Regions from separate parts of the Homo sapiens genome. Here region 2 is linked to region 1. Evidence: fine-mapped expression QTL. A gene starts in region 1. The other region holds a variant in brackets. All regions are shown on one strand. Distances are from middle to middle. Region 1 holds the start of ADIPOR2 (adiponectin receptor 2). Region 2 overlaps CACNA1C (calcium voltage-gated channel subunit alpha1 C).

Region 1 (2,909 bases):
TTACAAAAAGAGGCAACTGGCAGGACTGGGCCTGCAGGCTTTAAAATCTGTCAATCCCTGAAATAAAGAATAAAACAAAATTATTTTCATTTTAGGAAACAAAATGTGATTTATACTAAAAAAAAAAAGTGCACCAGCTAAATTGATACTATTGATAGAAAAAACCATTTATTTATAAATTCATACAAGGAGCCTAGGGATAGAAAAAAAAAACAAACTCTCTTTTAGGCTCTGGAAATCCTACTCCCATTCCTAGTGTCAAGTGAAAAGAGGAAATCTGCTAAGCAGACCAAAGTCTAGATAGGAACGTATACTGGAGGACAGACAGTTACAATCAGAAGTTAAAAGAAATATGCCTTTCACATTTAATTTGCAATTTTTTCAAATTTCATAATTCACCAACAAGCAGCTGCCACATGTGTGGAAATCTTTACTGATGAAATAATTTTAGTTGCAGATCATCACAATCAACACTCTGACAACAAATTTATCAGAACGGATGAAAACATCTAGGAATTACCTAAGAGTCGTTTAAGGAGACATAAGGGTGGCCTTTGATAAGAGGTCACTTCAAACTTTCAGAACTGACAAGACGTATAGCCTCCCCCCAAAAAATAATGCTATGGGTAGATGGATGCTTTTTTCTGAAGGAATTTTTAGCATTTCATTTGGAAAAGTTCTGTGATCAAATAATGCTAAATGTTATGACAGCTTTCTTGGCGTTTAAAGGGATTCTCTGGGTGAGGGGAAGGGGTGATAAAAAAAAAAAAAGTCTGCTTTTGGAACAGAAATGGGGGACAATAACCAAGGCTCAGAAACCCAGAGTCAAAAAATTAAAAGAACATCTTATTTTAAAAAAAAAGTCAACAACCTGCAATGAAGTCACCGTACCCCCATAAAATCCCAACTGTGCATTTAAATCTTTCTACCAAAATTCACTTTTGGACCATCTTATGAAGTTGTCAAAATTTCAGAGGCAAACGCTTAAATCAAGATCAAAAGCCAGGAGGAAAAAAGAGCTAACAGTTTCCAACCCAAACTCTCTCCGAGCCCCCTAAAAACTGATTTATAACCCTGTCATCGGTAATTTTAGAAGAAGCGAACACTGACGGACGGGGGCTTGGGAAAACAGGACTCCAGGTACCAAGCAGGCTGCCTGACGCGCCACCTGAAAAAGGTGAGGGAACTCTTCCCCACCCCAGTCACTGTGAAAGTAGCGCTGAGAGAGCCCATCCCAAGCCTCCACCAAACAAATTCCTAGAAGTGATAAAAACAGACAAGAGACGAAGAGGGGCGGGCAGATCCTCTCCGCGGGCAGGGAGCTGGAGCAACTGCACCCGAAGGTGAGCAGAGGGCAGCAGGCTCCGACCCTCCGCCGCGAAAGGCGAGGCGAGGGGAACAGCGGGCGCCGGACTCCTCCGACAGCGGTCGCAAGGAGGGCGGCTCCAGGTCCCCACACGGCCGACCCTCAGGCCAAGGCGCGCCGGGCGGCAGGTCAGAGTTAGGAATCAAGTTGCGGGCCGGGCCGAGAGCGCGCTCTCCCGCCCGCGCCAGGGACATTCGCCCCTCAGCTCTCACCTCCCCCCGACCCCAAGCTCTCCCTCTGCGCCCAGGAAACGGCGCCCACACTCCAGAGACCCTCACCCGGAGCCCGTCGCCGCCTCACCGCGTGTCTCGGACTTCTTGGGAGCCACCGCTGAGGGGAGGGGGGAGGAGGGGGGAACGGAGGAGGGAGGGGGCCAAGCCCGGTGTAGCCGCCGCCGCTGCCGCCGCCGCGATGCCGCTTCTGGAATCGCGCTCTCGCCGCCGCGACAGCGACCGCCGCCGCCGCGTCTCCCCGCCCCCACGACCGCACGTCGCCGTGACGCGCATCGCACGAGGCGGTTCGAGCCAATAAGACCACACGCCGTGCGCAGCCGCGCTGTCCTAAACCGGAAGCCGCCCCTCTGACCGCTCTAAAACCTGGGTGCATCGTGGGAGCTGTGGTTCGGCCAGGAACTTAGCGAAAACTATACTGGGTGTTGAGGGCCGGAGGAGCGTGCGCTCCTTAGGCGCTCACACAACTCCTCGGAGTTTTTTCTCCCACCGAAAAAGGAAGCAATTTGGAGCTGAGGAGGAGGGGGCCGCCCCGGCTCGCGGATGCTTTTCGCAGTCTCTATGGATACTGGCTACACACTTTGGGCAAGAGCCAGAATTTGAGGATTTAGGCTGGATCGTGTGTCTCTGCCAAGGGCTGATAGGATGCTGAGCGTCGTCTGTGAAGACTGCGGAAAGAAATCCAAAAGCATTAGCCCAGTTTTGCCCAGAGCAATAGTGTTTGCCTTTTATTACCTTATTAAAGATTATGATTTATGCTCTACCACTTCTATTTTTTTTAAAACCCAGTCACTCTTAAAATACATATAATTCAGAGCGATTTTTAAAATGATGTTAATGTAATGGTATATCAGAACCTACTTAAGCACTAAATACCTGCGTCCATTTACCCAGAATGAGTAAGTAATTTTCCACAAGTCATCTTTACGTTGAGTTCTAACTTCTTAGAAGCCAAGAACAGATTTGGTTACGTACTTATTCTATAAGAAAAGTGAATATAAGAGTTAGTCTGCGTAGAAAAATAGTTCTTTACATTCAGTAGGAGGGGGAATTTATCACATTCTTAAGGCGTAAATGCCTTAACTATCAAAATTCTTGTTATTGACTAAAGGAAATCCATACGATTTAGGGAAAGTCTGTGCCCACGGCTTACTGTCCTTACCTTTGGACCACAGCAAGAGATAACAAAGGGTGCAGGGAAAAGCTGACAGGTCTTGAGGGAGCTGGAGTCGGATATATGACGAAAAAAACAAAAATACAGAAGTCTTCATTATGGAAATGTAAGTTTTAAAAAGTAAAGCTACTAAAATCAC
Region 2 (2,909 bases), 450 kb before region 1:
AGCCCTAATCCAATGACTGCTGTCCTTATCAGAGGAGGGAAAGCTGGACACAGAGACACAAACACCCAGGGGAGCGCGCCATGTGAAGACGGAGGCAGAGATCTGGAGTGAGGCACCTAGAAGCCAAGGGATGCCAGGCGCTGCTGGCAACACTGGAGCCAGGGCAGGAGCACGGAACACACTCCTCAGAGTGCCCAGAGGAACCAATGCTACTAACACCTGGACTTTGAAACTCTGGCCTCTGGAACTGTGAGACAATAAATTTCTATTGTTTTAAGCCACCAAATGCATGGTATTTTCACAGCAGTGCTAGAAAACAAACACACTGAGAGACGCAGATGAGTAAGCAGGAGGCTAAATGTGCTTTGATAGGGGTCATCTAGAATGCTATGGAAACACAGAGGGCAGCACCAAAGCCAGTCATGGAGGAGCAGAGAAAACTTCCTACAAGAAGGGACTCCAAGTCTGGGCCTTGGGGATTGTCTAAGTCCATTTGTGTTGCTATAAAGGAATACCTGAGGCAGGGTTACTTAAAAAGAAAAGAGGCGTATTTGGCTCACGGTTCTGCAGGCCGCACAAGAGGCATGGCTCTAGCATCTGCTTCTGGTGAGGGCCTCAGGCTGCTTCCACTCATGGCAGAAGGGGAAGGGGAGCCCGGCGTGTGGCTGAAAGACCATGTTGGGCTTCACCTCTCTCTGGGATAACCTCTGGAACATTCCTCCGATGGGCAGGAAGCGTGGAAGTGACCCCGGCCTGCTGCTGGTCACTCTCTTACCTGCTCTCTCTGGTCAGTCTAGCAGAAGTGGGACTCGGAGCCACACCCTGGCCTTCGACACCTTCTCCCACAAGGCCCGTCCCTATCAACCGTGCCCAACTGCCAGGGTTCAAGCACCTCCACACTGTGAGCTGCGTACACAGCCCAGCCCTCAAGCATAGCATCCACCACCTGCCACCTGCCTTCCCCCACACAACCAGGATCCATCTGCAAGCACAGGCCACACCAAGGCTTGTGCTCCCCAGCCCTGTGAAGGCTGGCCTGGCCACAGGGACCACAGCACTTCCAGTCAGATCTGATGAAGCCTCGGTGCAGACGTGAGGTCTCCTCCTGGATATCCTGGCCTTCCTTATTCTTGATGCCTGACCTTGTTCCTCAGGACTCAAAGGCACAGAGAAGAGAGGCTGCCCCAGGCCATGTTTCTGACTGTGTGCCCGAGAGCCCAGATAATAAAAGCCCTGGGGTTTTCCCACTATTTCTGCTATGCATTTGAGGAAGGGGTTTGCAAGTCACAGGACAGCACCAAACGAACTACTCAGCAGCTACACTCGCTGTGCCAGAGTTCAGCTAGACCCAGTGAGAAAACAGGGAGTGGCCCGCATGAGCTCCCGGCAGGGGCGCCTGTGTGAGGCGATGTGTCGGCTCCAGGACTGCACACAAAGACAGGGTCCACTGGCCTGGCGCTCCCGGACCCCGGCAGCCCTGCCAGACTCTTGGCAGCAGGCAGGTTGCAG[C/G]CACACCACTCACCACCCATCTTGGAAAGGTCAAGAACTAAATTTGGAACTTGGCTTCTAGTTCTTTTGCATCTCTAAGTTATCTTGAGAGGAGGCTGAGGAAAAAGGTTCACAGAGGAATGTGCCAGAAAAAAAAAAACAGTAAGTATTTTAGAGACAAATATATCTGTCTAGTTTGAATCATAACAGTAATAATGATCACAATAATGCCTCTATGTTTATATGGCACTTTGCATTTTTCCAGAGCATTTTAAAAAATAAACATGGGGTCTCGCCCCATCACCCTGGTGTAATCATAGCTCACTGCTGCCTTGAACTCCTGGGTTGAAGCACTCCTCCCGTCTCAGCCTCCCAAGCAGCTAAAACTACAGGTGCAAGCCACCATGCCCAGCTAATGTGTGTGTATGTGTGTGTATATATATACTTTTTTTTTTGGTAGAGCTGGGCGGAGCATTTCTATCTATATTCTCATTTGCCCTTGCCATAACTCAGTGAGGTAGGAATTATTATCTTTATTTCACAGCCGAGAAACCTAAAACTCAGAGAAGTGAAGTGACAAGGCCGTGCCACCAGGCAGAGGTAGAACTGGAACCAGAGCCCAGGGCTAGGACATGCAGCTCAGCACTCTCTTACTACCCATCCCACATCCTGGTGTTCAGGCCGTAGCTCTTCGATGTTTCCACGTCTCCAGTGGGGCCTAGGGTGCACAGGCAAAACCTGTGGAGCCTCTCGGCACGAGAGGGGGACTGCTCTCACCTGGGCGGGGCGCCGTGGGGTCCCCCACATGTTATGCTCTGAGCCCTGCCAACCACCAGTACTGACTGGGGTCCCATGAAGGCCCCAAGTTCAAATGCAGGCCCAGCAGCTCCCAAGATCTGCTTCCAAGGACTCAGTCCACGAGAAGGGTCCCTCAAGTTTTAAGTTTGTCTCAGAAAGTCAGGCTGATTCTGGGTTCCCTCACCCCAACCAGAGATTCTCATCTATTTAGGAAGAGGCCCGGGGGCCTGTTTGGTTGAGGATCTCAGGTAATATGAATCACTGATCCCTGGGAAAATATGGCCTCAAAGCCAAGTCTACCTCTCAGGTAGTAGCAGATGAAAAGGCCTCCCCTTTGCCTACCCCTTATGCTTTCCAAATGGCATGGCCTGGGGGCTCCATGGCATGCCCCCAGGACCCCTACAGACACCACCCAGCCTGGGGACGTTCACTCCCTCCTTCACTGTTGCTCCTCCCTTGGTCCTCTTGGTAAAGACAGAAGCGCACACACTGCATAAACTCTAGTTGAAGGCCTGATAATTAAGGCATCGTATTCAAAGCAAAATACCCCTCCCATTTATACCTTAGTTGGGGGCCACACAGCATAGCAGTTAAAAGCACAGACTTGGGAGCCACACACCCAG

The links. PIP is the estimated chance that this variant, and not a neighbour inherited with it, causes the effect.
Region 2: its variant is fine-mapped to the expression of ADIPOR2 in sigmoid colon (GTEx, PIP above 0.99).

The regions. Positions count from the first base shown.
Region 1 is chr12:1,689,949-1,692,857 of GRCh38, reverse strand. It overlaps ADIPOR2 (adiponectin receptor 2), which reads right to left and starts at 1,788. Exons shown (of 8, transcript NM_024551.3): 1 at 1,667-1,788. RefSeq lists silencers at 1,486-1,575, 1,596-1,895 and enhancers at 1,394-1,972, 2,056-2,105, 2,126-2,285.
Region 2 is chr12:2,136,432-2,139,340 of GRCh38, reverse strand. The region is part of intron 3 of CACNA1C (calcium voltage-gated channel subunit alpha1 C); the gene reads right to left. The region is part of intron 1 of LOC107984131 (a long non-coding RNA gene); the gene reads right to left. Among named protein-coding and RNA genes, the nearest start is that of CACNA1C, 85 kb to the right of the region's middle. RefSeq lists enhancers at 1-60, 1,423-2,218. The variant C/G (reference allele first, on the strand shown) is at 1,510.